4 linked regions of the Homo sapiens genome follow. The protein of the gene in region 2 interacts with the protein of the main gene of each other region in a biochemical or structural test. Each region holds a gene or a part of one and is shown on either strand. Other genes may lie near its edges.

Region 1 (7,000 bases), on a different chromosome or scaffold from region 2:
CTATAATTTCTTATTCTTCTTAAAAATAAAAAGATGTTGAAAGATGTAATTTTGCCTTTGCAAAAATTACAACCAAGGAAATTATGTAAAAGAGATCTGACCTAACCAACTCCATCTTGCTTCTAACCTCTAAGCTGTCCTTGTTCATTCCTGGGTGTAGGCCGAACTAATCTTGGGAAAGAACTTAGTTTATTAAAGTTTAACTTTGAAACAAACATGATAATAACCCTTTCCCAAAATAAACCCCCTTCTTGCCTGGGGAACCAGTCAGCCTTTGTAGGACTAACAAATTAGCTCCAAGATTAGAAATTACGGTTTAGGAGCCACACAGCCTCCAGCTGCATGAATCTGAACCTCCTCAAATTGCTCCCAGGTATAACATCACAGTTGTAACACCTAAAATCAGTGCTCCAGATATTTTGCAGACCTTCCAATGCACCAGCTGATGCCACCTAGATAGGTAATCCGGCCCAGCCAGTTCTGTGCTCCCACACAGGAACAGAAGCAAGCAAGAAAAACTCAATTTTGACCCCCTATGATTTCATCTCCAACCCAAGCCCCTACCTACCAAATTATCCTTAAAAATTCAGATCTCCGAGTTTTCAGAGAGACTGATTTGAGTAATCATAAAACTCCAGTGTCCCGTACAGCCGACTCTACATTAATTACTGTCTCTCTACTGCAATTCCTATCTTGATAAATCAGCTCTGTCTGGGTAGTGGGCAAGGAGAACCCACTGGGCAGTTACAATATCATGTATCTGGTTAGGCTTACATTTTAAATGCATTATTTCCTTAGTATGCTACACTGCTACCTCCCAAACTGTCTTAGGCAACATTTGTTCTATGAAATGTGAATAGGTATGTCCTGAAAAAAGGATTTACCTGTCAAATGAGTTTATGAAAAGCTGTACACTATACTTCTGTATGGAGGTTCACAATGAACATACTGAGTGAAGCCTCTGAGAATCCTACAGCAAAGAAATCTACTTAACTTCAGTTACTCACAATTTCCTAGGATGATCTGACCTTGAACTTTTTTTTCAGAGTTTCCTATTAACATTCTGCAAAGATCCCTGCCCGGTTACTGACTTCGGTACCACTGTAGAACACAGTCCACAAATGAATGGTGTAACAGATGAGTTTACTATAATGTGTTTCCTATCATAATGCAATGTGTAAAGCTGAACGTATTAAACTACAGTAATAAAGATGTTTCTGTATTTTATTTGGAAAATGATGGGGAAAAGATTCTGCTATCTTTTTTCTTTTTATATTAATAGTTCTCTTTTTATCTATATTCACAATTGTCTAACAAAATACCTCAAAAATAATCTTTGTTAGCATGATTCTTTTTCATTAGGCCAAAAGAATTTTCCTTTTCTACTGATAAGGAAAAATTCGCTGGATCCTTTTCATGTACCTAGCACTATTTCAGGTACTCTGATGAGTATAAGGGGCAACTGTAAATGTAATCAAGTTACTGATTCCTACACAGCTCCCAACAATTAAAGGTTTGCCACAGATCCTTAGGTAACCCCAAAATGTTCTGTCCCTCACTTTTGTCTTGGGCCAGCTATGTAGCTGCTATGACCTGGCCAAACCACACATAAAAGCAGCTTAGCCCAGTATGTCAAAGGGGTTTGAATTCCTAATCCCAAAAGCCATAATCCCAAATGTTGAAATCCCAAAAGATCAAAATTCCTAGATTAAAATCCCTAACATCAAAAATCCTAAAAATCCCAATCAGAGGAATCACAGAAGAATTCCAAAAAGAGCAATCTCATGAAGAAAATGAATATGAACATATTCTCCAAGAACCATGTCCTAAAAGAAAAAAAGCACCTATTATTCGTGGTACAAGACTTCAAAATATAGTTAATGACTGAGAAAGACAGCCAGCTCTATGGACTATCTCCATGCAACTGCCTATAATCTGTCCCTGTGATACACTTTTTTTTATGTCAAACTTCCTTTTTAGTTTTGGGTGTTTTTTTTTTCTTTGTTTTTATTTTCACTATCTTAAATTGTTAGCATTTTTTAATTATGTAGAAATTTTTGGAGAGTTCTAATTTACTGTATTCATTTTTTGCAAATTTAACTCCATGAAAATGCATTACCACAACATTTACTTTCTGGGTAAACATTGTGTATGTATATAAAAACACTGAAACTTAATCAATGAACAGATGTCCTTTATCATACATCTGCACTTGTAAAAGATAAAATTTCTCAAGATTTCAGTTCTCTGGGCAACTACAAATGCAGTGGTGACTCACTATGGTTTTTGACTGATCTCATCAAAAGACAGCTTGTTCATCATCACAGTATTTCAGATGACTGCAGTAACAAAGCTGGGTGCACAATTACCAACCACAATAATATGTGTTTATGCATTTCACCTTTCGCCCTATTCTTTATGAATACGGTTTGTCTGCTCCTGTTATACCCATGCAACTATTGTTAGTATATGTGTTTATAGTTTCAATAAACATATATGTTTATTGCCTATATATATGTTATTGCCTATTTTATTGTGAAAAGTGGCCTATGAAGAGTTCTGTCATGTTTTTATACGTTTCTCAAATCCCCTTTTTAAAATGTAAATAAATATCTTTTTTTATTATTTTTACAGAATCCTAGTTTTGGGACTTTCATCTTTTAAGATTTCAACATTTGGGATTATGGTGTTCAAGACAGTGTCTTTCAGGATTATGACAGACTTCCGTTCAAAAAACAGGATTTAAGAGGGGATGGTGGGGGAAGAGACTGAAACAAAAAACTGACACACCATTTTACATGATCTTGAAAGACATCAAATAATTTAGACTTCACCTTTTATGAAAGGAAAGTTATAAAAGGCTTCTAGTTTAGAGAGATATCTCTAAGAAACCAGGAAAACCAGTCTGGGAGCTAATGGAATTATTATGCAAAAGGTGGAAAAGGACTTCACTAAGGCACTGGCAAGAAAAAGAAAGGAATGTACAGTATTTGGAGAAGGAATCAACAGGATCTGGTGACTGACAATATTTCAGGGATAAGAAAGGAAAATCAATTACAATTAGAATTTTCGGGGTATGTGTATTGTAGATGCCATGCAGGCAGAAAGAAAAGTTCTGGTTTAAGTCTGAGAGATTAGGGGATGGTGAGGGGTGCGGGGACGAGAGATCAAGATAGTGAATTCTGTTTTGTTAGGACACTATGAAACTGACACTCTTATAACACATTTGAATAAAGAAAATAAATATCATACACTCAAAAAATAAAAAAAGAAAGAACATCTACAAATAGGAACCTGGGACCCAGTGTGAACAAGTCTCAGTCTCTGTTGCTCAGCATCACCTCTGAGACAGCTTTACAACACTCCACAAACCATCTTGAAACAATGAAAGATCCTATAGGTGTAAAGGAAAACACCTACATTTGATGACTGAGAGTGAGCACCACTGAACTTTCTTCCAGCGACTGCATGTGAGCCAGTGATTGACTCTTTTAACCAACTCTGCTAAGTGGTCAGGGTCAGACTTCATGATCTGATCAAATTCTGCAAACTAGGAAGTGAAATAATTTAGTATCAGTATTAAAATATAAATGCATTTGAACACATAAAGACATGATGTAAACAGAATTCAAATCCAAAATCTAACTGTCTGAAAATGGTCACATGTCAATTACATAGGCCTTGGCAGAGAATACAACAAACACAAACACACTTGGCCACGTTTTGCTTCCTTTCTTTCTTCAGGAGCTTTTTTGGAGGTAAGGAGGTTACTTAATGCTAGGTAGCATATTCAATAACAAAAGTGGGGGGGGGGGATGACTTTTAAATTACAGATGGCTAGCGAGAAGACTTTATTAAGAAAAGAATGAAAAAGGACTACTGTATCTCTGAATTGGCTCACCCACATTCTCAGATATCCTTATGGAGCTTTTGATAAGTGCATATTAGCTATATAATACCAGGTACCGCCAAAATTATTCTGTCTCTCCTAACTCCCATTACCCACCCCCAACCTTTTTTGCAGTGGCGCAATCTTGGTTCACTGCAGCCTCAACTTCCCAGGCTCAGGCAATCCTCCCCACCTCAGCCACCCAAGTAGCTGAGATTACAGGCACGCACCACCACACCCGGCTAATTTTTGTATTTTTTTGTAGAGATGAGGTTTTGCCATGTTGCCCAAGCTGGTCTCAAACTCCTGGAACCAAGCAATCCCACTGCTTCAGCCTCCCAAAGTGCTGGGATTATAGGCGTGAGCCACAGCGCCCAACCCCCATTTCCATTTTAAACAGAGATGAGAAATTTTTGCTACTAAGTGACAGACAACACAAATAAAACAGCTAGTAGGTTCTTAACTAATAAAATACATTATTTCCACTATATACCACAAAATTCCATAATGATTTCAATCCTTTACCAAATAACCCACTATAATATTAAGAATGTCAAAAACCCATCAACCAATATAACGGCTTCTTATAGTCAAAATTAAATTAAAGGTAACATAACGAGAGAAAAGATATTTAAATCTTTGTCTTAAGCTTTCAATAAATATTTCTAATTTTTCAGGAGTTTAAACAAGAAAAAGTGCTTTCTCTATGAGACTATTAGTTCTCAAATAATTATTAAAGCTCTAAGACAAGATTGTCCACGCTGTAGTCCATGGGCCACATGTGGCCCAGGACAGCTTTGAATGAGGCCCAACACAAACTCATAAACTTTCTTAAAACATTATGAGATTTTTATTGCAATTGTTTTGTTTATTTAGCTCATCAGCTATCATTAGTGTTGGTGTATTTTATGTGTGGCCCAGGACAACTGTTCTTCTTCCAATGTGGCTCAGGGAAGCCAAAAGACTGGACACCTGTGCTCTAAAATAAATGGGGAGTTTAGAATAAATATGTATGAGTAAAGCTAAACAAATTATGAACATTATATATAATTATCTTCCTCTCAACTTTTTTTTCTTTTCTGAGAAATGGTATGGAAAATAGCAATTCATGTTGTTAGTGACCATATAATTCAAGAATAATACAAATTATTAAATACTTTAAGATATTCACTAACCCCAACTATTTGTTTTCATGATGTTACAGTTTAAAGTAAAAAATGTATATTTACCTTGCCAGGTCTAAAAAATACTTTGGTTAACCCAAACTTGTAGTCATTTTCATTTAAGCCCAAAGCTTTAAACAAAGCCTGAAAAATAAAAGTTAAAAAGTTAAATGTCAATTATTAATAGAAAAGACAAGTTCATAGCTAAGAAATTTCAATTTGGGTGGCATTTATACCTTACAAAATAGTCTTGGATCCAATCTTGCAAGTTTATCTGGCATATACTTTTTGTACATGTTGTAGAGTTCATGAAATGAAGCTCGTGATGGGTAACCACCCTGCATCAAGTCCAAAACAGACACCATCCCTAGATTCACGAACAAGCACAAAGCACTGTCAATCACTGTTCGGAAGTCCAAAATAATTTGTGAATGATCATTTTTGTAAGATACTGTTTAGAAACGGGCAATTTATGAGAATTATCAGCAACTAAATATTATATAGGAAAATATTTATGCTCATTATGTCCCAACTTATCCACCACCTAAAACTACTATAGTCAAATTTCCTGTAAACCCAATAAGACTCTTTTCTAGAGGCAAATTATTGGTCTCTAGACAGATCAAGTCTAACTGGGTGCAGTGGCTCATGCCTATAATCCCAGTACTTTGGGAGGCCACGCCAGGCAAACTGCTTGAGCCTAGGAGTTCAAGACCAGCCTGGGCAACATGGCAAAACCCCATCTCTACAAAAAAAAAAAAAAAAAATAGAGAAATCAGCCAGGCATGCTAGTGCATGCCTGCAGTCTCAGCTACTCAGGGGGCTGAGACAGGAGGATCATCTGAGCCAAAGGAGGTGGAGGCTGCAGTGAGCCTTGCAGGACACTGTATTCCAGCCTGGGTGACAAAGTGAGACACTGTATCAAAACAAAACAAAACAAAACTAAGGAAAGATCAAGTCTAGTTTGTATCTTTTTTTCTGTTAGAAGACTCTGTGTCACAAACACAGTATATAAGGCAAAGCCCTGCATTAAACCACTTTCAAAGGCCTGAGGTGAATTTTAGAACAAAATTCCTGAAAGAAACTCCAAAAAGTAGATACATTCCCAAGTTATCATCAGTGCATAAGGCAAATGGAAAAGAAAGAAGAGCTCACTGTTTCACTATAAAGACTGCCTTTCACTCACTTCTCAAAGCAACTAGACTACTGGGATGATTAGTCTATTGGATAAATATCTATTTTCAGTATAACTCTAGTAAGTGGTTAATCTGAGTCTTGAGTCAATGTGAGCTTTTCAGGTCAGAAAAAGTGTGAGATAGGCAGGGAAAGGCTGAGCTATAAGTGATGCCAGGACTTTTATTTACAAGACCTAGATTTCAGTCTCTGGGACTATTCAAATCAACGGAGAAAGTAAGATTATTCAATAAATAGTATTATGACAAACGGCAAGCCATTTGGAAAACAAAAACAACACTAGATCCTTGTCTCACTTCTTACACCAAAATAAATTCCTGCTAGCCAAAAATTTAAATTAAAACAAACTCTAAGACTTTTTAAACCAGTGAATTTTTATTTTAAAGTAATCTCACAGGAAAGATGGCCTTTACAGACAGTCAGATTGAATTTTAACCCATTTGACTGGCAAAGGTATAAGATAACAACTAGTACTCAGAGCTGATGACAGTGTAGGAAAACACACAGATGCATTCTTAGCAGAAAAGTAAGCCAGTGTAACAATTTTGGATGGCAATTTGGAAATATCCCTTTGGCTCGGTAAATCTATTCTATGATTTTTCACACTTGTGGGCAAAGATATGCATGTGGACAATGTCCAGATGTCCTCTGGGTCACTGTTGGTAATAGAAAAAAAACCAGAAAAAAACTAAAATCTCAATTGATTATGTTACAACCATATGATGGGATATGACATATTTAAAAGAATAAAGCA
Region 2 (8,418 bases):
CCTAATGGATATCTTAATTCACAATACAGCTGCACAGGGAAATAAGAAACAAAACAAAACAAGATTCTTTGATTTGGGCAGAAATTGTGTTAAGTCAAAGCAATAGCCTTAATTATCCAGTGCTAAGCCAAAGGTCTTACCTATTTTCTCAAATTTTATTAGTAATTTTATAAACAATTTGGTGGACACTTTTAAAAGGAGAAACAGAAGGAGAATAAGAAGTTGTTTGTGGATAAAGTATCAGGCTGAAATCTATTCACCACAATTCTTATTAGCCAGGTGATTACATCCATCAGGTCAGACAGATATATGAGCAATGATGAATACTCCATTGGTAGAAGTTAAACTAGCAACTTGGAAAGACCACACCATCTGGAGAATTTCAGTAACAGCTTGTCTGCCTTCCTCAGGCCCTGAGCAGATATAAACTAGAAGAACATATGGATATTGCTCATTATAAATAACCTTAAAGTTAAAAAAAGGGGGGGGGGTGGTCAGAATTGTTTTACTTATACCAACAGATGATAAGGCAAGCTAAAGTTTTCCATTTTGCTCACTCTATAATAAATTGCAATTGATGTTGTAAATGAAAGTGGCTTGAGTTACTCACTCACCTGGCCATCTGGTTATTGTTTATTAAACACCTACTATTTGCCAAGCACTGCATTATCCTATGTATAGAGTGACAAAATAGACATGGTCTCTACTCTAAAGGGGCTTAGAGGTTAGGTAGGGGAGAAAGAACAAGCAGGTCACAGTTATAACTGATGCTATGTGTTTTGGAGGAATTGTTTCTGATTAGGGTAGAAAGCTTCATTGCTGTTAATAATACTTCATAAAAGGAAGAAAAAGTAGTATTACATCAAGGAATTATATATAAATTGCTGTATTGATATCAATTATGGAAAGATGCAAATGTTGTCTGAAGGGTTAATAACCCTCTTCAACAATTTTTAAATTATGACACAAATTGAGGGGATATTTACATTTAATATTTATGAGTCTCCTATAACCACGTTACAATCTGAAGGACCATCTGTATGGCAGTAACAGAAGGAAGCAATTCTGTTATACCTGAGGGTATTGAAGAATTTCAGTGATGTTTCCTTCAGAGTTATCATAAGATCCAAAGTTCTGAATCAACACTATCTTCATAAACACCAGAAGGAAACACTATGCTCATTTGGCATTCAGTCTGGCATTCACTTAAGAAGTACAAGCAATTCAGGGAACTTCTGTATTCTAGAACCAGACATGTTCTGTGGCACTTTTAATTACCAGATTTTCTAAGAATACAACGTGTCACTTTCAGATCAGGCCAAACATTGAACCTCAGATTTCAGTGAAACAATCTTATGAAAATGTAACCAAGGGTCCCTACAGCTTGCTTTAGTTATTTAAAGAGCACTACCAAGTCACAAGAGCATTATCAAGGGGCTACCAGGCAGCACTTGGTCAATGTCAGTCTTCAAGGAAATGGACTTCATGATCAATACAAGTAGTGAGCCCTCCACAAATGTTGGCCGCATGAAGTGTAAGAGTCCAGATCCTAACACAGAACATGGTTGTGCCCACTGTTTCTATGAAAGAGTTCTTGTGCAGAAAACTGAACATTTGCATCACTATACACTAAGTGGGAACAGCATTACAGAATGTACTTCGTATGCAGATATACCTAAAAGATCCACAACAGTACTGTCTGCAGCTTAGAATGAAGCTAAGATTTTATCCTAAACTGTTCATGTTTAATGAATGAGTCAAACCTCTGAAAGTCTACTTTTCATAATTACCCTTTATTTTCACACCTCTCCTCCCTCCCCATCATATTTTTTTTTTTACTTAGTTCCAGCATTTTTCCTCAACCTTGCCTCACCGCCACCCTGAGTTCCTCCTCCCTAAAAAGCTATACCACGTTGTATCATACATGTCCCTCATGATTAGCGGACTTATATTATGGTGTTTGTTGATCTTTTCTACACACATAGCATAAGTACTCCTTAATATATTTAAAACACTTGAAGTGAAAAACAAACAAACAAACAACTCTTTATGGGATGAGCTCTTTCTTCCATTTTCTCCAAAGGGCTTCAGTGAGAATCTAAGGTGTAAGAGACTCTGGTTGTAACTGATCTCCCTTTATGGCTAAATTTTTGTAGGAGTGTTTACTGGCCTCCTAGCTTTCCTGATTTTGAATTAATCAGGTATCGGTGTTCAATTCCTCCATTCACATTCAAGCTGAGATTCAAAGCCCTTCTAATCAGGCTGTGGACTATACATATACATGGCCACCTGCTCTCTGAAGAGGCCGTTGTCTTCTGTTTCCCCTAAACAGACACATAGACACACCAGACCTTCTTATGTGGTCTGCTAGCCTGTAATATGTACTGCCTTCACCTTCTTGAATTTCGTGAAAACCTTCATTCCAAGGCCACTCAAGATGTGTGGTCTCAGGGAAGTCTTTACCGGCCTCTTACCAGCCATTTCCTCACATTTGCCATGACCTATCATTGCCCTCTGATTCATGTAGAGCTCTTCTCTCAATTCAATAAAGCTTTTGGGATCCGAAAATTATTTGCCCTACTTTTCTAGGCTCGACACAGTCTGTTAATGAGCAGTGCGCTTAAAACATTAGGGGTAATAAATATTTCTTTTTGCACCTTAATCTTAGGTTAAGCAACCCTTTTCTCTACTTTGATGATTTTTGAAGAAATATAGGCTTTTCTTCAACTACTAAGCAATCTCCACTCAAACACATTCTGCCAATAGAGCCAGGTTAAGTTATCCCAATCAGCATTTGGTTTTCCTGCTTTAATGACGGATCTGCTTGGCAAACACCGCATATTCTCATTTGTAAGTGGGAGTTGAATAATGAGAACACATCAACACAGGGAGGGGAACATCACACACCGGCGCCTGGTTGGGGGGTAAGGGGAGGGATAGCATTAGGAGAAATACCTAATGTAGGTGATGGGTTGATGGATGCAGCAAACCACCATGGCACATGTATACCTATGTAACAAAACTGCATGTTCTCCACATGTACCCCAGAATCTAAAGTATAAAAATAAAAAAAAAAAATCAAAATTCTTATCCTGACATCCATGGCTCAGTATAATTCATCCCTACTTTTCAAACTCAGACACTTCTCAGCCCTATGCCACCTGTACTGTTTCTTGGCCAAACTGACCAGTCAGAGTTCTTTAGGCATATCCTAAGTTCATCCAACTGCATGATTTGCATATGCGCTGCTGCCTAAAATGCATTTTCTCTTCTTACCTTTGCTTATTTGACTTCCATTGTTCCTTTAAAAGCCAAATCCATTAACACCAATGGCCTTTTTCTCCCTCTGGATCCACACAACACTCTGTACCACTTAACTACAATAAAATCATATGTTAGTTGAGTAGTTACTATTTTCTCTAACTATCTTATAGGCAGCTCTTGTCATATATGTGTCCCTCTAAGGTAAATATTTGCACCCAACTTTCAATTACTATCAACTTTTAGTCATTGGGAACTTCAGACCAGTTAGACAAATCAGAAATCACAAAGAACAGGTTTTCAGGCAGTTAAGCAAGCATTTCTGCATCAAGCTATCCTTTAGAAGACAGCGTGGACATTAAATATAACTGTCTATCATTTCAATTCTAGTACATGTATGCTCTCTGAAAAGCCTCAGCTATAGTTGAACCTTAGCCCAGGCAGAAATCAATATTGACCCTCCTTACTAGCAACCAACAATTGATGGAAAAGCCTGTTCTATCAGCTACATACTTGTTTTTTCTACTTCAAAAATGAATTGCATTTAAGTCGCTTAATTTTAGAGGTAAAGGGGGCAGGGAGCAACACAAAACAAAATCAAGTAACAACAACAACAAAACCTAATGCTGATATAACTAAAGCACAGCTGACCCTTCCCTTTAAAGGATGGATATTTGAGCACCTACTATGTGTAGCCACAGCAACTTCTGATCTTCTGACTCAGAGGGCAGTTGTATGTTGCCCTAGTAGATTCACATTTCGTCCCAAAGCCAAACTGGTATAGCATTCTTCATATGATTATGTCAGCCCTCTGACATATGTTCAAACACATTTGGTTTATTTCTGTTGCACTAAATGGTAACAAAAAGCACGTTAGCATCTGTATTACATATTACAGAAAACTAGACCAGGTCTTGGCCCCCTAATAGGACACTTAAAATATAAAAAAATAAGTGAGATCATTTGGATGCAATATTTAGAACCGAGAGGGCAGCTGTGTTCAATATGGACACAATTAGGGATGAAGTTATTCACTTTCCAGTTCTTTGGGTATGGATTAACTATAGACCTTAAGAGGACTTAACTGCCCTGCTCAGATGAGGTTTAAGTGGTACCTTAAAGTTAGTATTTGTGTGCCTCTACTGATTTATGAAGCATTGCCACATTCTCCTCCTTGATTATTCACATTTAATAGTTTAAAGATATATAGGAAAGACAGTCTTCTAATTTTCAGCCTGAATGTGTGCATCTCTAGAATTTAGCTTGCCTGATACTCAAAAACAATGAGAACAAGACCATTTAAAAAATATCAGCTTAGTTATTGCATTGAGAATTGCATTTCTAGGACAGGTAAATTTCAGAAGCAGCCGCAGGAGTTCTGAAGAGTTTTTAATTTTAAAATCGAGGCAACTCATTTTCCTGATGGAGAAATGAAGCTCAGGCCTTATATAGCTTGTCTTACATGGCAAAGCTAGGCTGTGGGCACAGTCATTTGCAGCTTAGAACCCAAGCTCTTAACCATGAATCTATGTTGGCTTTTCAAAATCAGAGTTCCAATTATATACTTGTACATCACACCCTTGTATTTTTCAGTTTGAGATGTGATCTCTGTTTGACATCAGGCATTCTTAGGACTGTTTTTGCAAGGTAAGTGAGACAACTAAGGGCCAGAGACATTGAATAGCATGCCCAAGAAATGGTAGCACTGCCATTCACATGTAAGTCTGTTTAACTCTCTATCCTATGTCCTTTGCCACACATGAGGAAGACTTTTGTTTTGATTTCTGCTCACTGGGAGATTTTCCATTGCTAACCTAGCATCAGACTTCACATAGTAGGTAATTGCTAAGTATTCAGATAAACGCCAAGGTGCAAATCATAAAGATTCATAATTGAATCCTGGCTCTACCACTTAATGATAACACCTTGGGCAAGATACTCATCATATTGGAGCCAATAAATAGAGATATCTTTTCTATTTCAAGTTACTTAAAGTGAAAGTCGAATGGGAGAAAGGAGCAGTGCTTCGTTAGCCATTAAACTTTACAAAAACTAAATGAAGTAGACTCATTTATGGAGAGGACTTCATCTGCACTTCTAGACATGGCATAAAAACAAAATAAAAAGTTTTATAGGTTAGAGAAAACCATCTGGTTCAAGGGTAATGATCTAGTTTACTGGAATCCTTTTTAAAAGAAGTAAGTGGGACAGTCTCCTAATAAATGAAGATTAATTATACTCTTTAAAAACCCCAGCAGAGGGGAAAAGATTTGGAAGTGAGGTGATAATATCAAACCAAAAGTATATTGGATTTCCTAGGATCAAGAAAGTCATACTTGGTATATGGGAAAAATATCCAAATCCCATGCTTTTTAATCTTTCTGCATCCTAAGATTCAGTTAAACTGCACTGTGTTTAAAGGCTTTTGCTTTATTATCTCCATGACTGAAGGAATTCAAATACTTTGTTATGATTTCCACTGAAGAAGTGAATCCTAAAACCACTGAATTATGAAAGTTACTCTTGGATCACGTGGTGGAGAGCTAGTTTAGATACAGCTGGATGGGCCCTACTTCCAGAGTTTGCAGTTCTGACAGGTCCCCAGCTGATGTTGATGCTGCTGGTTTGGGAATCAGCTCTGAGAACTATTGTCTTAGATGAGTTCCCTCAAGCTGTGAAATACACATCAAGCTAAATGTCCAATTTTGAAAGACTGAATTAATTTGTCAAATGCAAACTTGTGTATGGCAGCTCATCTTTCATATAAAGATCAAAGTCTTTTTGGGACTAACATTTTGCATCATATTGCTAGGTAGCAATAGGGTAGTTTTTTACCAAGAGACAACATTAAACCATATTTCCCTCATCCAGATTTCTTCTAGGTTGAAAGGTGCTTCAAATCCAGCATTCTAGGATTGTTACTTCCTATTTACCTGCTCCCTTTACTCTATGGTTACCTGAAAATCTAAGTGACAGCCCTCATACATTGTTTACCTTCAACGTAACACTCACTCAGCCTGCCCCATTCACTTAGAATTTTTACCAGTTGACTTAGTTAAAAATCACTTGCCCCTAGCTAGCTAGTACAAATGTAGTAGGGAAAACTTGCCAGGCTGCTTCTATATTGAGGTAGTAACTTTTAGGTTCCAGAAATTTCATAAGCTTTCATGTTTTGCTATCTAGATGATGCAAGAACTAGGAAGGTTAGAAAATTAAGTATTGGGATTAAAATAAGTTTGGAGGGGGTGATATAAGTAGAGAGGAGATTCTACTTCACTTAGTAACTTCCATTTTTAGACCAGGAAGCAATTTGTTCAGATTCTACTTCCCCTAGAGAGGCAGGCTTCCTTCCAGGGTAGAAGGATGCGGGAAGGGGAGTAACCATGGCAACCTGCCCAGCTATGTGGGCAAGGATAGTATGGGGCCTGCACACACTCGGAAGAATTTTTATTTCTAGCCTAGTCATTCAGTTTAATCCGGGTGGTCCCTCCCTTCCCACTTCCTTCTGTGACAATGCTGACTTCAGGGGGAAGGATTGCTCCTTCTCTGTCAGGAGTCTGAGAGGGTGTGGGGAGGACTTAATTGAGACCAGCGAGGTCAGCCTGACCAAACCAAAGTGCAGGCTTCCAGGACGAAAACAGAGAGTAACTCCCTGTCTGTTCTAGCATGAGCACAAGCAAACGCACTGGCTTTATTAAAATCAAGTGCTTGAATAATTAACCTTTTTCAAGTAGGTGAAGGGTATTCAATTTTCATGAAGAAATTTTCCATTTGCTTTCAGTTTTCACAAAGACACTTAATTCAGTTGTTCAGGGGGGAGTAATAACAAACAAACAAAACCTTCAAAATCAGATGGGAAAAAGTATTCCAAGTATATTAGATTAGCTGTCTTCCCAGCAATCCTGGGGTAGGTACTATTATTCTCCCCAGATAAGCAAGCTGAAGTACAGAGAGGTTATGGAATGTGCCCAAGGCCATGTAACCTGCAACCCTGTAGCTAAGATTTGAACCCAGGAAATGGTACTTCAGAAGGTAGTTCTCAACTACTATCCAATTGTGCCCTGTTGGAGGCAGCCAGTGTTGAATGTTAGCCCTCTGTGTCCGTACCAGTCATCATTTGTTCCCCTAACCAGGAATTTGCTTGTTTTCTGTCTTTAAGTAAAGACTGAGGAGTCTGCTTTCCTTCTGATTTCCACCAGTTAATCCAGTCAGGATATGCTGATATTATGAGTTGGGTCTCCTTTAAAGACACATATCTGGTGTTAAATCTGATTCATCTGGCCGGGTGTGGTGGGCTCATGCCTGTAATTCCAGCACTTTGGGAGGCCGAGGTGGGTGGATCACTTGAGGTCAGGAGTTCGAGACCAGCCTGGCCAACATGGTGAAACCCCGTCTCTACTACTACTACAAAAAAAAAAAAAAAATATTATCCAGGTATGGTGGCGGGTACCTCTAATCCCAACTAATCAGGAGACTGAGGTCACAGAATCTCTTGAACCCAGGAGGCAGAGGCTGCAGTGGGTCAAGTTCATGCCAGTGTACTCCAGCATGGGCAACAGAGGGAGACTCTGTCTCAAACAAAACAAAACAAAACAAAACAAAAATCTGTTTCACCTAAATATGATTTTGGCCAACCTTTGTGCAATTCAGCGGCACAGCTTCAACTTTGGAATTACATAGCAGTGCCAGGGAGAATTTTAAAATACCACATCCTGTTACTCAGGTGTTTCATATTGCCAATCTGGTTCCCATTCTGGTTCTGTCTAAAGGGTAAAAAACCTTATGTGTTTGGTTAGTTACCTAAACCTTCCTGGCCAGTAAGCTTTCGAATCTTTCCAGCTGGGGAGGTATGTTCTGATGAGCATTAGGACAACTTCAAACCCCAGGAGGGCTCACTCTCAGCAGCTTTCCCAAGCATTTCAGCATCTTGGCTTTGTCTTTAAGAAGAGCAATAATTAAATCCTCAGGTCAAAAGAATGAGGAAGAGAAACACGCAGAGCCTTCAAAATTATCCAGATGAAATATCAGTGGTAGCAAACTTAGGTTTATGGACATATGAGGGTAGAGTTAGAAATGAAGCAGCATAAGAGCCTATGTCACAGCAAAGCCTCCTGCTTGGCCAGGAGCACTCAGCAAGGAAGATATCTTCCTGCTCCC
Region 3 (8,418 bases), on a different chromosome or scaffold from region 2:
GCTGCTGTGAGGACTGGAGTTGAGCTCTCAGCACCAGAACAGTGCCTGCCTTGCCACAGACATCTTGCAAGTGGGAGCTGCTAACTCTCTTGGACGGCTCCTCCCTGGTGGGGTCATGAGACCCCTGAATGAATGAATAAATGAACAAACAAAAGGGGGAATCCAGCCTGGCTACATCACACTGAGGTCCCATAACCAATGGGACTATAGTTAACCCCAAAGGGACTATAGTTAACCCCAAAGCGATAGCAGCTGTCACCCCACCCCCACAGAGCTAGGGGACAAGGGGCTTGGGATGTGGCAGGACCAGTGCTTCACGCTGACTTCCTGCCCCAAACCCGGCTCCCAGTAGCCCTTGTGCTGGGGTCCCGGGAACAGGCTGGCATTGTGCCCAAGCACTGACGTCAGTGGCCGCAGACAAGATGGCTCAGTGGCTTCCCAGCTAGTGCCTAGGCCGGGGTCCCCTCCTTAAAACATCTCCAGAAGGTGAGACCCTCCCACTGCAGGTCAGAGGCTGACAGCCAGAGTGGCTGGGAGGAGCTACTGCAAACTTAGGCCTCTACAACCCAGCGGGGGTCAGGCACAGAGAGGGGGTCCTTCCTGGGGTTATTTAAACTTAAGAGTCGGGCTACTCTATGGAACAGTGCAGGAACATCGTCCTGGGTGTCAGATGCTCTGAGTCCTGTACCCAGCTCTGCCATCAACTTGCTGTGTGACCTTGGGAAAGTCACTTGACCTTTCTGGGACTTGTTGGCTTCTGGTACCTTAGCCAGACCTGTTTCCCATCTGCTGTTGCCAGGACACCTGTGCCCTGTCTCCCTCCCCGCCTTGCCATTCCCTTCACACTCTCTCCTCCTCCTTTACCGAGGGACTTCCACTCAACCTTGGGGGTGCAGCTGAGCAACTGCTTCTGGAGTACCCATGCCTTAAAAAAACACAGCAGGACAGTCCCTGCAGTGCTGTCTGTAGTAGCAGGAGATGATGGGGAGACAGCCTTTATGTCCATCAGTTGGGGGCTGGGTGGATAAATTACAAGATGTCCCTGAAAGGGGACAGCATAGCTCTAGCTGTGATGGGGCCAGGGGAGATCTCTAGATGCCGATACTGAACACTCCCCATGATAGAGTATGGAAAATGGCAAAACACCAGCTCAAGTCATTGAAGAAAAAGTTGCCAGGGGAGCAGAACAGACACAGCTTCCAAGTCCCATCCCACAGGCTAATTGGAAACAGGAAGGAGCACCTGCACTACAGGGAGACGTGCGGACAACCCCGGAACCAAGTGATCCAGTGAAGCATCACCAGCAAGGTGACGCATGGACACTAAGTGCCTCCTGGAGGAGGACTCTGCATTGCCCGGGGGGGCGTTCCTGCCAGAGCTGTTCCACCTGACTCCAACCAGGGAGAAGCAATCAGACAAATCCAGAACAACTGGCCCGGACTCTTCATGTCAATGTCATAAAAGAGCAAAACAAAAAAAGGGCTGGAGAATGTTCTAGATTGAACAGGACACTAGAGAAACATGACAAGATTCAATAAATGATCTTGAATTGAATTCTATATCAAGGGGTGGTCGGGGGGACAGCTATAAAAATCACTTGGGGAGAGGGGAAATGGACATAGTAGATAATATGGAATTAATGTCAATTTTCTTAAGTGTGATCATGACATTGTGATTATATAAGAGATACACGCTAAAGTTCTTAGGGTGAAAGATGCAATGCCTACAACTAACACTCAAATCAGCAAAAAATACATACACACATATGTCTATGTAGATAAAAGAAGAGATAGAGTAAATGTGGCAAAATGTTAAGAACTGGCAAATCTGCATGAAGGATATATGAATATTCATTATACTATTACTTCAACTTTTTGGTAGGTTTCAAATACTCAAAATAAAAGGCTGTGAAAAAAAAAGCCAGGTGCAGGTTCTCTATGGAATACTACAAGTTGTGTTTTTAAAGAGGTATTAATGCAACACCTCCCTAAACTCAAATATGCCTCGATTATCTTTGGAAAGACAGAGGAAACTGGTAACAGAGGTTGCCTCTAGGATGAGAAGGGAAAGTGAGATCAAGTTCAAGAGAAACTTACTTTTTACTGTTCATTTGCTATTTTGTCCTTTTGGGCTTTTAAAAAAATTATTATTATTTTTTTAAAGCCACATGCATCTATTACCTTCCCCCTTAAAACTGGAAATAAGAAACTTTTTGTAAATCACCTCTCTCTGGAGAATTCCTTGGGTCCCCAGCTGTGTTGGCTGCCGAGGCCTCCAAGGCCTCTCACACATCCCCGTGCTCCAGTGAGAACCTCACTGGTTGTGGCCTGTGGTTTAGGGTGGACTGGGAGCTCTGCAGGGGGAAAGTGAGGGTCTGACTCACGTCTGCATGGGCTGGGCCCAAAGCGGCTGCTCAGTAAATGAGTGCTGAATGAATGAATGAATGAACGAATGAAAAAAAGGGGACGCCAGGCTGGCTGTACCACACCGAGGTCTCATAACCAATAGGACTATAGTTAACCCCAAAGGGACAGCAGCTGTCACCCCATTCCCGCAGGGCTAGGGGACAAGGGGCTTGGGATGTGGCAGGACCAGTGCTTCACTCTGACTTCCTGCCCTAAACCCGGCTCCCAGCAGCCCTTGTGCTGGGGTCCCGGGAACAGGCTGGCATTGTGCCCAAGCGCTGAGGTCAGTGGCTGCAGCCTCAGGCAGCCTTTCTTGTGAGCCCAGGCTGACAAGGAGTGGGGAGAAAGAACTGGGAGCCCAGAAACTCCCAGGCTGCCCTTTTCCTACCCTGGAAGCAGCTGTAGACCCCCAAGGCCAGGCACGTGCTGAGGGCCAGGGGAGGTCAAGGGGCTCCCTTGCCCTTCCCCCTTGCCAAAACTCTGCTGCCTAATGGGGCGTGGGAGCCTTCAGTAACTGTTTACGCCCAGCTAAAAATACCCACTGAAAAGGGAAGTGCACAAAAGACCTGGGGGAACTCAGGGCCCTGGCCCCCGGAGATTCTGGTGCTGCCACAGGACCTAGCTGGATGCTCTGGGGGATGGGGACAGCCACTGGAGGCAAAACAGGCAACAGCAAGGTCCACCTTGCCTTCTCATTCTTTGAGCCAGTGTTTTAGAAGCCTTCCTGTGTGCCCAGAGCCATGCTTGGTAGGCCAGGATATCCGGGTGGAGAAGGAAAGGACTCAAGAGGTCCTGCCTTTGGGGACCCAAGGTCACCACTCACACACCTCTCCTCTGTGCACAAGCCAGGGCTGGATGCTGGGAACCACCACAAAATGCAGACCCGGCTCCTGTCCTCCTGGTTACTGGATGGTCAGCCATGGCCTGGTATGTTCAGTGCCTCAATAGATTGTGAGACAGGGGCCACCCGGGAAGGCTTCCAGGAAGATGGGTGAGGGGAGCAGGAGCTAGAAGGATTTTAGGGGAAAGTGACTGAGAGAGGGGCGCCTTGAAGTAAACCAGGATTAAGACTGCAAACTGTGGTACAGAGCGAGTTAATGAAGACTGAAGAAGGTTCAGGATGGGGGCCCAGGGAACCTCCGAGCAGGGCCTACAGGTCATAGTACAGATACAGGCAGAATTAAGTTTCAGATTTGGGCCCGCCCCTCCAAAGGGCAGTGCACCTGAGGAGGGCGGGGCACCCACCAGCAGTTGGGCAAGTTTGGCAGCAATAAAATCAGCTCCACCTCTGGTTCTGCAGAGGACACCAGGCTGAGGCACTGTGACATTCCCCACCACACATCAGGCAAGGAAGGGTGCCCGAGGGCTTCCACTGACCCCCGCAGCCTGCGCTGGTGGTCCCTCAGCACCCCCACTGCACAGGTGTCTCAGGGTGAGCAGCAGCAGAATTGGGCGCCAGGGTCTTGGAGATGCCTACACCTCCCGGGGCGGTTACGAAGGAACAGAAGAATGCCTGCTCTGGCTCCAGGGCACGCTGCCCTACCCCCATCCCGGGGCTCCCGTCAGCACCCTGACCTAAGGAGAAGGGCGGATTTAATGGATAAATACCAAATTATAGCAACACACTGGCTTTTTTTCCCCTGCCCCCAATGGTTCAGTGGGACCGGAAATCCCGTCTAGTGGTTTGGGAGAGGTGGGGGCTGGGGTTAGAGCAGGCTAATGGGGAGCCTACTCCCCAGGCACCGCTGCGGCTTGAGGCTGCCATTCCTGGCCCAGAAAGGTTTCTAATTACCGCTCAGGAGCCTAATTACCTATGTGCGCTGGGCAATGGGGACTCTGGGCCTCCCCAGGGCCCTAACCCAGGCCTCTGCTCCCCCACCCCCTTAGCACAGGATGTGGTCTTTGCATCTTCATTTGCCTGCATTTGCATATAGCCTCTCAGCACTAGCCTTCAATGGACCCTTCAAAGTCATGTTCTTGTCCCTCACCCGGAAGTCTCCTGGCCACATTCTAGGTGGGGAGACTGACGGCTGGAGGCCCATAAGCTGTCTAAAACTTCGGCCCCCAGATTTCTGGTCTCCCCACTTCAGAACCAGGATCTGCAGAACACACAGCTCAGAAGGTAAAGCTGTGGGGATCAACACAAAGGACAGACTTGCTACTACTTAAGGGAGATGGGGGTGTTACCAGTACACTCCTCCAGCAGGATGGGCTGCAGAATGAGAACACGGGAATTACAGCTGACTGACCCAACCGGGTTTGGGGCACTGCATTAGTTACTTAATCCTTCAAACACCCCATAGGGCAAGGACTGGTGATCTCTGACAGAGGAGGAACTAGCTGTGTGGGTACTTGAGCTCAGAGTTGTCTGAACCTTGGTTAGGGGACCTTTCTTCCCACCTTTCCTTGTGCAGGACAGACGACACCCTGAAAATGGACAGGTGGGGGGCACCGAGGGGAGGTCTGCCCAGAGCTTGGCTGTTCTGCTCTGGGAAGCAGAGGTACTTCTGTGCCCACTTCTTGCTTGTCTGCATACCCCAGCCTCTCAGAGAGGCCAAGAGCCTGTCGAGGGACACACAGAAAAGAGCCAGCAGCCCTAGAGAGGGCAGAAGCTTCAAACAAGGACCTCTCCTCCTACCACGCTTCTTCTTCAAACACTTCTCAACTTTCACAGGACCTTCCCCTCCAGGAGGCCCTCCAGGCTGCCCCAGCCCACGCAGAGCCCCAGCTTCAGAGCTCCTACCAGCTCTGCCAGGAAGTGAGAACCACAGGCCTCCCCTCACTGACTCCTCGTCTCCTCTACCCGCCAGCAGAGGCGCTCTCAGGGTTTGCTCTTCATCCTTCCCTCCTGTCTCCCTGCAGCACGGACAGCACAAGCTGCAGATAGATAGATGCGCGAGTCTGCATGAGGACCAGGTGTCAGGCTGGGCTGAGAAGCAGCAGCCAGGGTCCAAGGGGGGCAGATGATGCCCAGGTTTTCGCCTGCCCACGAGGCTTACAACCATGCCATGATCAGGACAGCCAGGGGGGCACCAAGCAGCCTCTCTTCTACTTGTTCCTTCGACTCTGGGCCCAGACCACAGAAGGAGGGGTGGAGGGAAGCTGCGGTTGGAGGGTGTGTGCACAGCTAGTGTGTGATGAGAAGCTGACTTCATCTTAGCACCTCAAAACCAGGAAGAGAAACTGAGCAGGCAGAAAGGGCAGGCTGGGCTGCACAGGGCCCTCCAGTCCCTGGGGGCCTGCTGAGGGGAGCTCTCAAATAGTCGCTTGACAAACCACTTCTCCTTTCTGGGCCTCAGTTTCCCCATGGGAAAAATGGGATTTTTTTTCTAATGGGTCCTGCCAGTCTGCCCTGAGTGGTGCCGTCTACACTTAATGGGCCACATCATGGCAGATAAAAGAGCACCCCCCCAACTGGTGGAGTACTTCTGATCCCGAGGAGCAGGGGCTCAGCCACCCAAAGCCAGCCTCTCCCTGCTCACTTCTCCCCTCAGCCATGCAGGGAGCACCAGCTCTTCCTTCACCAGCTCTTTATTTTTAGGTCTGAATTTGACTTTAATCATTACTTAGCGGATTCTATTTCCAGCCCTTGGATGAAGGGACCCAGAGGAGAGGGGGAAGGGAGGCAGTGCTCCCTGCCGGGCGTTGGGGGTGGCCTGCTCCTCCACCCATCCTGTCCCCAACCAAGGGCGGGGGAAACTGAGAAACACCCAAAGGGCTCTCATCTGAGCCAGGCCAGGCCAGCATCTTGGGGCGGACCCCACCCTGTGACCTCATCCCATCCCAAGCTGTGGGACAGGAGGGCAGTTGTCATGCCCACTTCCCTTACACTAAGACCAGGGAGGAGGAGATACTCCACAGGCCAAAGTTTGGCAGCTGGAGTCTGAAGTCGTGTGCCCAAGGGACCTCTGCACTGAATGGGCCACCTGGGGGAGGACCCCTTCCTTAGGTTAGTCCTGGGCCACCCTAGGGTCATCTGGGGCTACAGTCTCTTAGGCCCAGGGTTGCCAGGAGGAGACTGGTGTCCTGCTACTGCCCACGGGGTGGCTGTAGGAGGGCACTCCCAGTTACCCTGGTCTCCACAAAAGTAGAACAAGAGGAAGCAGGTGTGTCACAGTGATACACACTCAGGTTAGACCTGGGGAACACCTGCTGAGGAGGGGGAGGCTAACATGAGTTTCCCGATGTGTCCAACTCCCTCCTGGGAAGCTCTGGGAGGCTCCAGAATCCCCCTACCCTTAATCTCCCAGCTTCTTTCCCTTCCTTGGCTACTGGAACAGGGTGCGAAGATGAGGCTGGCATGGCTGTTCTTGGGCTGGGGCTCAGGATGCCTGGGTTCCTTGTCTAAGTCTCAGGCTAAGCAGGCCTCTATTTCCTCTGGGAAAATGCCAAGCTGGGCTGACCTAGCCAGAGCTGGGAGGCAGGAGGCAGCCAGGCTCTTACAGAAGAGGCGCAGTGGCTCACGCCTATAATCCCAGCACTTCAGGAGGCCGAGGTGGGTGGATCACCTGAGGTCAGGAGTTTGAGACCAGCCTGACCAACACGGAGAAACCCCATCGCTACTAAAAATACAAAATTAGCCAGGCGTGATGGCACATGCCTCTAATCCCAACTTGGAAGGCTGAGGCAGGAGAATCGCTTAAACCGGGAGCCGGAGGTTGTGGTGAGCCAAGATCGCGCCATTGCACTCCAGACTGGGCAACAAGAGCAAAACTCCATCTCACACACACACACACACACACACACACACAAAAAAAAAAAAGAGAGAGAGAGAGAGAGAAGAGGCCTTGTCTATTTAGCTCTGATGCTGGGAGACCGGAAGGGGAATGGGTGGAGTCAGGTCCCGGACCCTAACCAGCAGCCCATCTTCCCAGGGCCAGCCCCATGTCCTAGGCCAGCCAATCATATGGTAATGGGGAGAAGGGAAGGCAGGCAAGGGCACTGGCCATAGTATTCTAGAACCTCAGGGCCAGGGGGTTTCACAGGGGCTCCTCAGGCGGAGACCACCTCTTTGCCAGGTGAGTGGTCAGTCAACATTGGCCCGTGGCTCAGGCACCTTCCCCACAGGTTGAGGCAGCCAGCAGTGGGCACTCCTTCAACAATGCCAATCCTACTCACAGAGGGAGTGAAGAAAGGGCTGTGCCAGGCACTTTAGAGTCCCTTGGTTAGTTAGTTGACACTGTCCTTACACCTTCCTCTGAAGTAGGTGTTACCATCCTGTTATTTATATCAACGAGGCTCAGCAGGTCAGTGACCTGTCTAAGGTCCCTCTACCCTGGGCCTAAGTGGCATGTCTGGGCCTGGAACCCACATTCAGTTGGGTGCCAAGTTGCTTGTGCCCTCCAACACCCTGGCTGCTTTTGGGACTCATAGTAACGACAACCACAACAGCAACAGAGGGGAAAAATGCACACGCTCCAGTGTATGGGTGATGGCGCTGCAGCAGGCCAGCCTAGAATGTTCTGTAGCTTTTTAGAAGCAACGTTACTTAGACCGCGTAGCACCATGAGAAAATGCCCACAGACGCAGTATTAAATGAAAAAAGGTGTCACGGCACACACACTCCAGTGACAACGACAATGAAGGAAAAGGATGGGGAAAAGACTGGCAGTGAACTCCAAAATGCTAACACAGTCACTGCCTGCTGAAGAAATAGTGGGTGATTTTTGTTTCATTTTCTAAATTTCCTGTAGCGCTGTTTTGTTATTTTCTAAATCAAGAAAATGAGTACATTCATGGTTTCCCTATAATGAGCTCAGATTCACTTCCCTGGGACCCACCTGCTCCCTAGCTCTGGCCCACGTGTCTGGGACAATTTCTGCCATGGGATGCCTTTCTCATTTGGGACAGTCCCTCAGACATATGAGAATCTGTCCCTACTTTCTCTTTCCCAGACTCAGTCAACATCCCTGGCTCTTTGAAGATGACCTGTCAAGGTTTTAAAATCCTTCAAAAGATGGAGCCCAGAACCGCACCCAGGTGGGTCTGCCCCCTTTGGGGGGCAGCCATGTCA
Region 4 (8,418 bases), about 34 Mb from region 2:
CAGCCTCCCAAAGTGCTGGGATTTCAGGTGTGAGCCACCGTGCCCAGCCTATTTTACAGCATTCTTATTTATTTATTTATTTATTTATTTATTTATTTATTTATTTATTTATTTTTTGAGACAGAGTCTCCCTCTAAGGCCCAAGCTGGAATACAGTGGTGCAATCTTGGCTCACTGAAACCTCTGCCTCCCAGGTTCAAGCTAGACTCGTGCCTCAGCCTCCTGAGTAACTGGGACTACAGGCACGTGCCACCACACTTGGTTAATTTTTGTATTTTTAGTAGAGGCAGGGTTTTGCCACATTGTCTAGGCTGGTCTCCAACTCCTGGCCTCAAGTGATCCACCTGCCTCAGCCTCCCAAAGTGCTGGGATTGCAGGAATGAGCCACCATGCCTGGCCTTGGATATTCTTTTCAAAGGCTTGACTAACCACATCAAAAACCACATTTATAAGATTTTTCCATTTCCTCACAGAAACACCTGATACCTGAATAGCAGAGGGAAACTTAAAATCTGGTTAGAAAATTTGTATCTCATTTTTTTATTTTTTGAGACGGAGTCTCTGCGCCAGGCTGGAGGGCAGTGGTGCGATGTTGGCTCACTGCAACCTCCACCTCCCGTGTTCAAACAATTCTCCTGCCTCAGCCTCCCGAGTAGCTGACACTACAGGCACGTGCCACTACATCCAGCTAATTTTTGTATTTTTAGTAGAGACAGGGTTTCACCATGTTGGCCAGGATGGTCTCGATCTCTTGACCTCACGATCTACCTGCCTTGGCCTCCCAAAGTGCTGGGATTACAGGCATGAGCCACTGCACCCAGCCTGTGTCTTATTTTTGAGAGAACAAATTTCTTTCTTGTTAATTATTTACAATAGTATAGTTTCATTATATTGGGGAAAAAGATCCTTTTGTCCTTCTAAACTGGTTATAAGCCCTTAATGCAAACAGGATTGCTGGTTTACTTCAATTTAAACTAGGAATTTCAGCTTGGCTCACAAAAAGCTATATATTAATAGCTAGGGTTAAAGTCAATGCAGTTGGCCAGCTGAAAGTGGGCAACCTATAAGTACCAAACAGCAAAAAAGAAACTGAAGATTTGCTTGGTTATTTCACCCAATGTATGGCTCTCCAGTAAAAGTCTTATTCTGCATGGCAGGTGTAAATGAATAAACAACACAGACATATTTACGGTCCTTTCTACAGAAATATCTATGAGAAAAGCTACTGATATGTTTTATATTATGCTCAAAATATTCAAAAAGAAAAAGCTCAGCAACATTTGAAAAGCCAAAAAACCTATCAAATAGAGGAGTTATTGGAGACTAGGCTGAGCATGGTGGCTCATGCCTGTAATCCCAGCACTTTGGGAGGCTGAGGCTGGCAGATCAACTGAGGTCAGGAGTTCAAGACCAGCCTGGCCAACATGGCGAAACCCTGTCTCTACTAAAAATACAAAAATTAGCTGGATGTGGTGGTAGGTGCCTGTAATCCCAGCTACTCGGGAGGCTGAGGCAGGAGAATTGCTTGAACCTGGGAGGCAGAGGTTGCAGTGAGCCAAGATCATGCCGCTGCACTCCAGAGTGGGCAACAGAGCAAGGCTCTGTCTCAAAAAAACAAAACAAAACAAAACAAAACCAAACCCTAAAAAAACAAGCAGAAAAGTTATTGTAGACTAAAATTATGCATTCAAAAGAAGGCAGAAGAATTCTCTTTTGATTAAGAGAAAATAAGACTATGTTAAAGACTTGGCTGTCCCAAGAATTACATCCTTATTGTAAGTTGAGTTATAGAAGTGATCAGCTAGGACAGCCTTTTCCTTGGCATTATGAACACAAACAGATGTACTTAGTGAGAGAAGCATAACTTGCTTCTCCTTAAAATAATCATCAGAAAATTGAATGCTGCTGATAGTTAGCTTTAATAGGGGGAAATGGACAGGAAAAAGGTTCTTTTAGAGAACTGCAGAAGGCAAGGGGGCTTTTTTTTTTTTTTTTTTTTGAGACAGAGTCTCACTCTGTCACCCAGGCTGGAGAGCAGGGGCACCATCTCAGCTCACTGCAACCTCCGCCTCCTTGGGTTCAAGTGATTCTCATGCTTAAGTCCCCTGAATAGCTGGAATTACAGGCGTGCACCATGACGCCCAGCTAATTTTTGTATTTTTAAAACAGATGGGGTTTCACCATGTTGGCCAGGCTGGTCTTGAACTCCTGACTTCAAGTGATCCACCCACCTCGGCCTACCAAAGTGCTGGGATTACAAGCGTGAGCCACTGTGCCGGGACGGCAAGGGGCTTTTTAAAGCCTGGAAGCGTCTACATGATTTCTGGGAGGTCAGGAGAATCCCGTTAACAGAATGAACTAAACTGTGTTAAATCAGTTTCAATTAGTTATCAGGTTACCTACATGGAACATAGAGTTCTATTTCTTTAAATTTACTAGGTATAGTTTCTTAATGTTAGCATGTAAATATAAGAAGTATTTACATAATATTTATAAAGTTATGGCAAAATAAATTTTTTCTTATAGAGAACACATACTCAATCTAGATGAACAAATGTGTTCTGAATCTCAGCTGGTCCATTCTAAAGGTATTAACTTCCACCTAGTGGTCATTTCTAGAACTGAGGGCATGAAATTCCAGGAGGAAACTTTACATAAACTTTCCCTTAAAAAAGGTATTGCAGTGCTTCCAGGAACGGTGCACCCATGGCCAGGCGCAGTGGCTCACGCCTGTAATCCCAGCACTTTGGGAGGCCGAGGTGGGCAGATCACGAGGTCAGGAGATCGAGACCATCCTGGGTAACATAGTGAAACCCTGTTTCTACTAAAAAAAAAAACAAACAAACAAAAATTAGTTGGGTGTGGTGGCACGTGCCTGTAATCCCAGCTACTCAGGAGTCTGAGGCAGGAGAATCGCTTGAACCCAGCAGGCGGAGGTTGCAGTGAGCTGAGATTGTGTTACTGCACTCCAGCCTGGCAACAAAGCTAGACTCTGTTTTAAAAAAAAAAAAAAAATCAATTTTCAGTGACATCATTTTATAAATAAAAAAGGACACACACACTTACCTCCATTTTCTGATTTTTCTGAAATACTAGACAATTTCCAAAAGGCTTTCATTTGTTCTGCATTCCTGCAATAAGAACAGATATCTTCAGGTTTTGTGTCTAGTATAGTACCTGATACATGAATGGGACCTCAATAAATAAGTGTATTTTAAATATTTTCACTACAACAAATATATTGCTAAGTTTAAGTAGTATTAACTGGTGAAAATGTGTTTATGATATAGTATAAACATAATGCTGTATCTTTTTCAATTAATGGAAGTTTACCAAATTATGTAATTCTTCTCATTCCTATTGGTCAGAGAAAGTAAAATGGAATGTGTATAGGGATCAGTACCTTCATTAGTCAAGGAAGACACATGTTATTAAATGATGAAGTAACTATAAAGAGCGGTTAGAGTCTATACTAATACTAACAGAGGGGACAGGAGAAGTTGCTAAGAGATGGCAGTAACTAATACTATTAAACACTAATTAGATAGGTGTTCCTGTTCCTATAGACTTGCCAGATGCTATATTTAATCCATAAAATATTTGTATTTTTTAAATGAAAAAAAAAAAAAAAGAAGTTTAGAGAGGTCAAGCACTCTGCCTAATGGTAAAGTTAGTATGGAATCATTGAAGTCTGGGTGGTACTTAGAGCAAAACTAGTTTTGTTTATTTTTGATTAAGGTTACTATGGTTTGACTAGTAAAATGAACTGCATCTTTTACAGCGTGGTTTCTATGGAAAAAGGCACAAAAATTTTTCAAACTTCTAAGAAAACTTACAGAACTTGGGTTCTAGAAGTTGGGGATTGCAACAAAAATTTAGTGGGAATTCAGAAACGTATGTTTAATTTACCATATTGCAGGGGGAAGGGACTGCATGTTCGTTACTCCTCCATCCACTGGTACCACCACCTGTATGTTGGAAAGCACACTAGGTGCCACCATAGCTTCTGGATTGTATTTATAATCCACTCTAAGATCTGTGGTGCTAGCACTACATTTCCAGTATGTTGCAAGATTCAGAGGAGTGGACTGAATACCATTTGATGATACCTTTAAAGAGAAAAGAACAAACAATTGTTTTTGGCCTGAAAAGTTAAGAAGTCATGTTAATGACATGGACACTTGAACATGTAAGTCCACAAAATCAAAAATATCTAATGAGGGGACTATCTGTTGGCAGAGTGAAGCAGACCTATCTCAAAGGAGTAAGGATCATTCTCAATGTGGGGACCTACTACTACTTACATCAAAATTGCTGTGGTGCTTGTTTATAACACACATTCCCTTAGCTCCAACTGCAGAAAATCTGATTCAACAGCTTAGGGACAGGGCCCAGAAATCAGCATTTTATGAAGGAATTCTTAATTATGCGTGTAAAGTTTGCGAATCTTCCAACATTCAACACAGAATTCAAAGATTCTTCATACATTATAAGAATTCAGATTTAGAACACGAGAAAAAAGGTCACCACGTAGTACCACAAGTTGGAATTAGAATGCTTCCAACTTCAAATGTTTAATCACATGACTCACAGTAAATGTTATAATTCCTTCAAATTCTTAAGCTCCTTGTCCAATGGCTCCTTTTTAAGGAGACCTACTCTGACTGCTCTGTTTAAATTTACACTGAAAACTGTATTTTCAATCTTCCTTACCTTAGTCTATACTTTTTCTTTTTTCCATACCACTCATTTTCTAACATAGAATATTATGATTATTATTTTGAGGCAGGGTCTCACTCTGTTGCCCAGGCTGGAGTGTAGTGGCATGCTCATGGCTCACTGCAGCCTCAACCTCCTGGGCTCGAGCAATCCTCCCTCCTCAGCCTCTGTACTAGCTAGGACTACAGGCTTGTGCCATCACACCCAGAGAATTTTACATTTTTTGTAGAGATGGGGTTTCTTTTTATTGCCCAGACTGGTCTTGAACTCCTGGGCTCAAGCAATCTTCTCGCCTCAGCCTCTCAAAGTACTGGGATTATAGACCAGAGCAACAAAGTCCAGCCCATAGAATATTACTGATCTTTACTGTCTCCCTGTCCTACTCCCAGCAATTACATGCACTGAATAATACACATCTGTTGAATAAATGAACACCTGTAAGAAACTTTAAGTCAATTTAAGTGGCAGCACTTTTTTGTTCTTTAAGTATTTTTCTAGAAACAAGCCATTTTAATAAAATTACCCTATTAAAAACTAAAAAAATAGAGAAATATAAAGTAGGAAATTTATCCCTTGGAATCCTGGCATATATCCTTCCAGACTCTTCAGGCATATGCAAACATAGATCCATGTCATTCTTTTTAATGGCTATAGTAATTAATTTCCTCCTCTGCTGATGTGTATGTACTTAGGTGCTTTCTAAACAATGCTACAGCGAATATCCTTTATGCCTTATCTTCATCCAACTGTGTATTTCTGATGATTTCTGGAAGTGGAATTGTTGAATTAAAGGTTACATCTTTCAACAATCTAACAGAATTGCCTTCTAAGAGGTTTTACTTGCATCCTATTAACAAGTGATCATAACCTTCTTAATACTGGATAAAGCGAACTTTCATTTTTGTAAATCTGATGGGCTAAAACTGACACCTCATTGTTATCTTAGTATTGACTGCTCTCATTACTACTGACATGAAGCATCTTTCCATAGGTTATTTGTCTATTGAGTTATTCACATGTTGCTTACAAATTTACAAGGGCTCTTTGGGGTAAGCCCTGTGGTTCATCTTATGTGTCGTAAATACTTTTCCCACAGATTAAATACTGATTGTGTTTAAAGGTTTAACAAAATATTTTATAAACACACACATTTATTTATCAAATATCTCATTCTCTTCTTACATGGCTTCTGGGTTTCATATCATACTTAGGTCTTCTGTACTTCAAGATTAAAATATGTAATAAATATGTATTACATATATACACACACAGAGAAATACATATACAGTTGTTCCTCAGCATACTTGGGAGGGTGGGTTCCAGGACCCCTGTGTATATACTAATCTGTGCATACTCAAGAAACATAGTTGGCCCTGTGGGACCCACATATAGAAAAAGTTGGCCCTCTGTTTATACATGAGTTTTGCATCCACAATCATTGCATTTTCAATTGGTGTTTGGTTAAAAAGAATCCTCGTATAAGTGGACCTGCATAGTTTATAGATCCTTTTTGTTTAAGGGTCAACTGTATCTTCACCCATGCCTTTATTTTAGTACCTTTATGGTATGGTATCTTTTATTATTATTATTAAACCTTTGATACACATGGATTTTACTTTGGCTAAAAGTCTAACAGGGATTCACCTTAATTTTTTTCTCAAGTGTCTAGCTTGCTATCCTCAACATCATTTTTTGAAAAATTCATCACGTCCACATTGCCTTGAAATGCTACTATGTCGTATAAACAATTTTCCATTTATTCTTAGATCTATTTCTGGATACTCTAATCTATTCCTTCATCTGGCCATCTACTGCTGCGTTAGTTCCAAACTATTTTAAATACTGTCTATACTAAGCTTTCCCATTAAAGCTAAAACATTACTCCACTTTACTGTTTAAAACATTTCTTGCCAGGAGCGGTGGTTTGTGCCTTTAGTCCCAGTCACTCGGGAGGCTAAGGCTGGAAGACTGCTTGAGCCCAGGAGTTTGAGGCTGCAGTGAAATGTGATCATGCTACTCTACTCCATTCTGAGCAAGAGAATGGGACTCCATCTCTTTAAAATAAAAAATTCTTGACTTATTCTTGTAAGCTTTATTCTTCTAGAGAAACGTGAAAATGATTGTCAAGCCTCCAAACACAAAGACGTAACTCTACTGGGTTTCTGATCAGTATTATATTAGATGTATAAGTTAACTGAGAAACAGCTAAACTTCTACAGCATGAATCTTTCCATATTCAAGTCACTAGAGATTGTGTTGTGTTTCTTCCTAATTGTTCTTTGTGAATATTTTTCTCCACTAGTTTTTGTAATTGGTTTTGAAAGTTATTAATTTTGGTATTAATTACTAAACTGACCACCTATATTAAATGTCCTTATGTCAAATAGTTCTTCAATTGGTTCTCGTGAGAGGAATATATCACCTGTAAGCAATAATAATTTTGATTCCTCTTTCCCAGTATTTATTAATGCTTATTTTGTTCTCTTACCTGACTGTACTGGCTAACACATCCAGAAAACTCTTATATACTAACAGGATCTACTAATGGGCATCTTTGCCATTCCTAACTTTAATTGATTACTTTGGGAGTTTCATTGTTAAGACTGATACTGCTAGTCTTTTCAGCTTAAGGACAAATTTATGCATTTAAATTTACTCAGTATTTTAATCATGAATAAATGGTGAATTTTACCAAACTGGTCAAAATCTCCACTGGCTTATAAACAGATTTTCTAATTTCAAAACATCCTTGAATTTCTGGGAAAAAACTCACTTGGCTATGACATACTTATTCATTTATATGCTAGATTCCATTTTTTAATATTTTAATTTAGAATTTTTGCAATGTCGTGACACTCACCTGATACTTTAATACATCTACATTATAATAAGAAGCAGCTGGATTTTGCTCTGACAGCTTCTTGAGGTAGACTGTAACAGCTTGCATGTTCATCCAAAAATCTTTTGTGTTGGAATCACATTGTGATGGATCACTACATATATAAAAAATATATTTGTTATTTTATTGACTTATCTTTATGTTTTGCCTCTGTGTAGTAATTTGGTGACACAGGAAAAACTAGTAGAAATAAACCAAGAGGTGGGATGAAGGAAAATTAGATCAGGGGATGAAGAATGGAACACAGGAGAAGCTTGCTTGAAAGATAAGATGGAGAGAGAGAAAAGAATCTTAAAATAACTATTAGCACCACTGAAAACAAAATAAAAAGACAGCAGAAAGGTGTTTAGTAAGAATAATTTTGGTATGGTTTTCAAATTGAATATTATTATTTCAAAGAAGAAGGGGGAAAACATTTTTTTTTGAGACAGGGTCTAGCTCTGTCACCAAGGCTGGAGTGCAGTGACACGATCTTGGCTCACTGCAACCTCTGCCTCCTAGGCTCAAGCGATTCTCCCACCTCAGCCTCCTGAGTAGCTGGGACTACAGGAACGCACCATCATGCCCAGCTAATTTTTGTTCTTGTTTTTTGTTTTTTGTTTTTTTGGTAGAGATGGGGTTTTGCCACATTGCTCAGGCTGGTTTTGAACAACTGGGCTCAAGCAATCCACCTGCCTCAGCCTCCCAAACTGCTGGGATTACAGGCGTGAGCCACTGTGCACAGCAGGAAAGAAAATCTTAAAACGAAATTTCAACCTTCAAAACAAAAAGTACACAAACCTGAACACAAGCTGTGCATT

What was found.
Region 1: the proteins of DAB2 (region 2) and MYO6 form a complex in vitro, tested with the Homo sapiens proteins (7 studies listed by BioGRID).
Region 3: the proteins of DAB2 (region 2) and CSK form a complex in vitro, tested with the Homo sapiens proteins (one study listed by BioGRID).
Region 4: the proteins of DAB2 (region 2) and FCHO2 form a complex in vitro, tested with the Homo sapiens proteins (2 studies listed by BioGRID).

The regions. Positions count from the first base shown.
Region 1 is NC_000006.12:75,878,239-75,885,238, reverse strand, and holds part of MYO6 (unconventional myosin-VI), read right to left. Parts: intron 5,420-7,000; coding exon 5,289-5,419; intron 5,197-5,288; coding exon 5,119-5,196; intron 3,551-5,118; coding exon 3,421-3,550; intron 1-3,420. UniProt on the Homo sapiens protein: Myosins are actin-based motor molecules with ATPase activity. Unconventional myosins serve in intracellular movements. Myosin 6 is a reverse-direction motor protein that moves towards the minus-end of actin filaments.
Region 2 is NC_000005.10:39,414,234-39,422,651, forward strand, and holds part of DAB2 (disabled homolog 2), read right to left. Parts: intron 1-8,418. UniProt on the Homo sapiens protein: Adapter protein that functions as a clathrin-associated sorting protein (CLASP) required for clathrin-mediated endocytosis of selected cargo proteins.
Region 3 is NC_000015.10:74,784,752-74,793,169, reverse strand, and holds part of CSK (tyrosine-protein kinase CSK), read right to left. Parts: intron 4,627-8,418; exon of another isoform or gene 4,593-4,626; intron 4,499-4,592; exon of another isoform or gene 4,413-4,498; intron 2,354-4,412; exon of another isoform or gene 2,224-2,353; intron 125-2,223; exon of another isoform or gene 1-124. UniProt on the Homo sapiens protein: Non-receptor tyrosine-protein kinase that plays an important role in the regulation of cell growth, differentiation, migration and immune response.
Region 4 is NC_000005.10:73,077,474-73,085,891, reverse strand, and holds part of FCHO2 (F-BAR domain only protein 2), read right to left. Parts: coding exon 8,399-8,418; intron 7,713-8,398; coding exon 7,580-7,712; intron 4,110-7,579; coding exon 3,910-4,109; intron 3,132-3,909; coding exon 3,067-3,131; intron 1-3,066. UniProt on the Homo sapiens protein: Functions in an early step of clathrin-mediated endocytosis. Has both a membrane binding/bending activity and the ability to recruit proteins essential to the formation of functional clathrin-coated pits.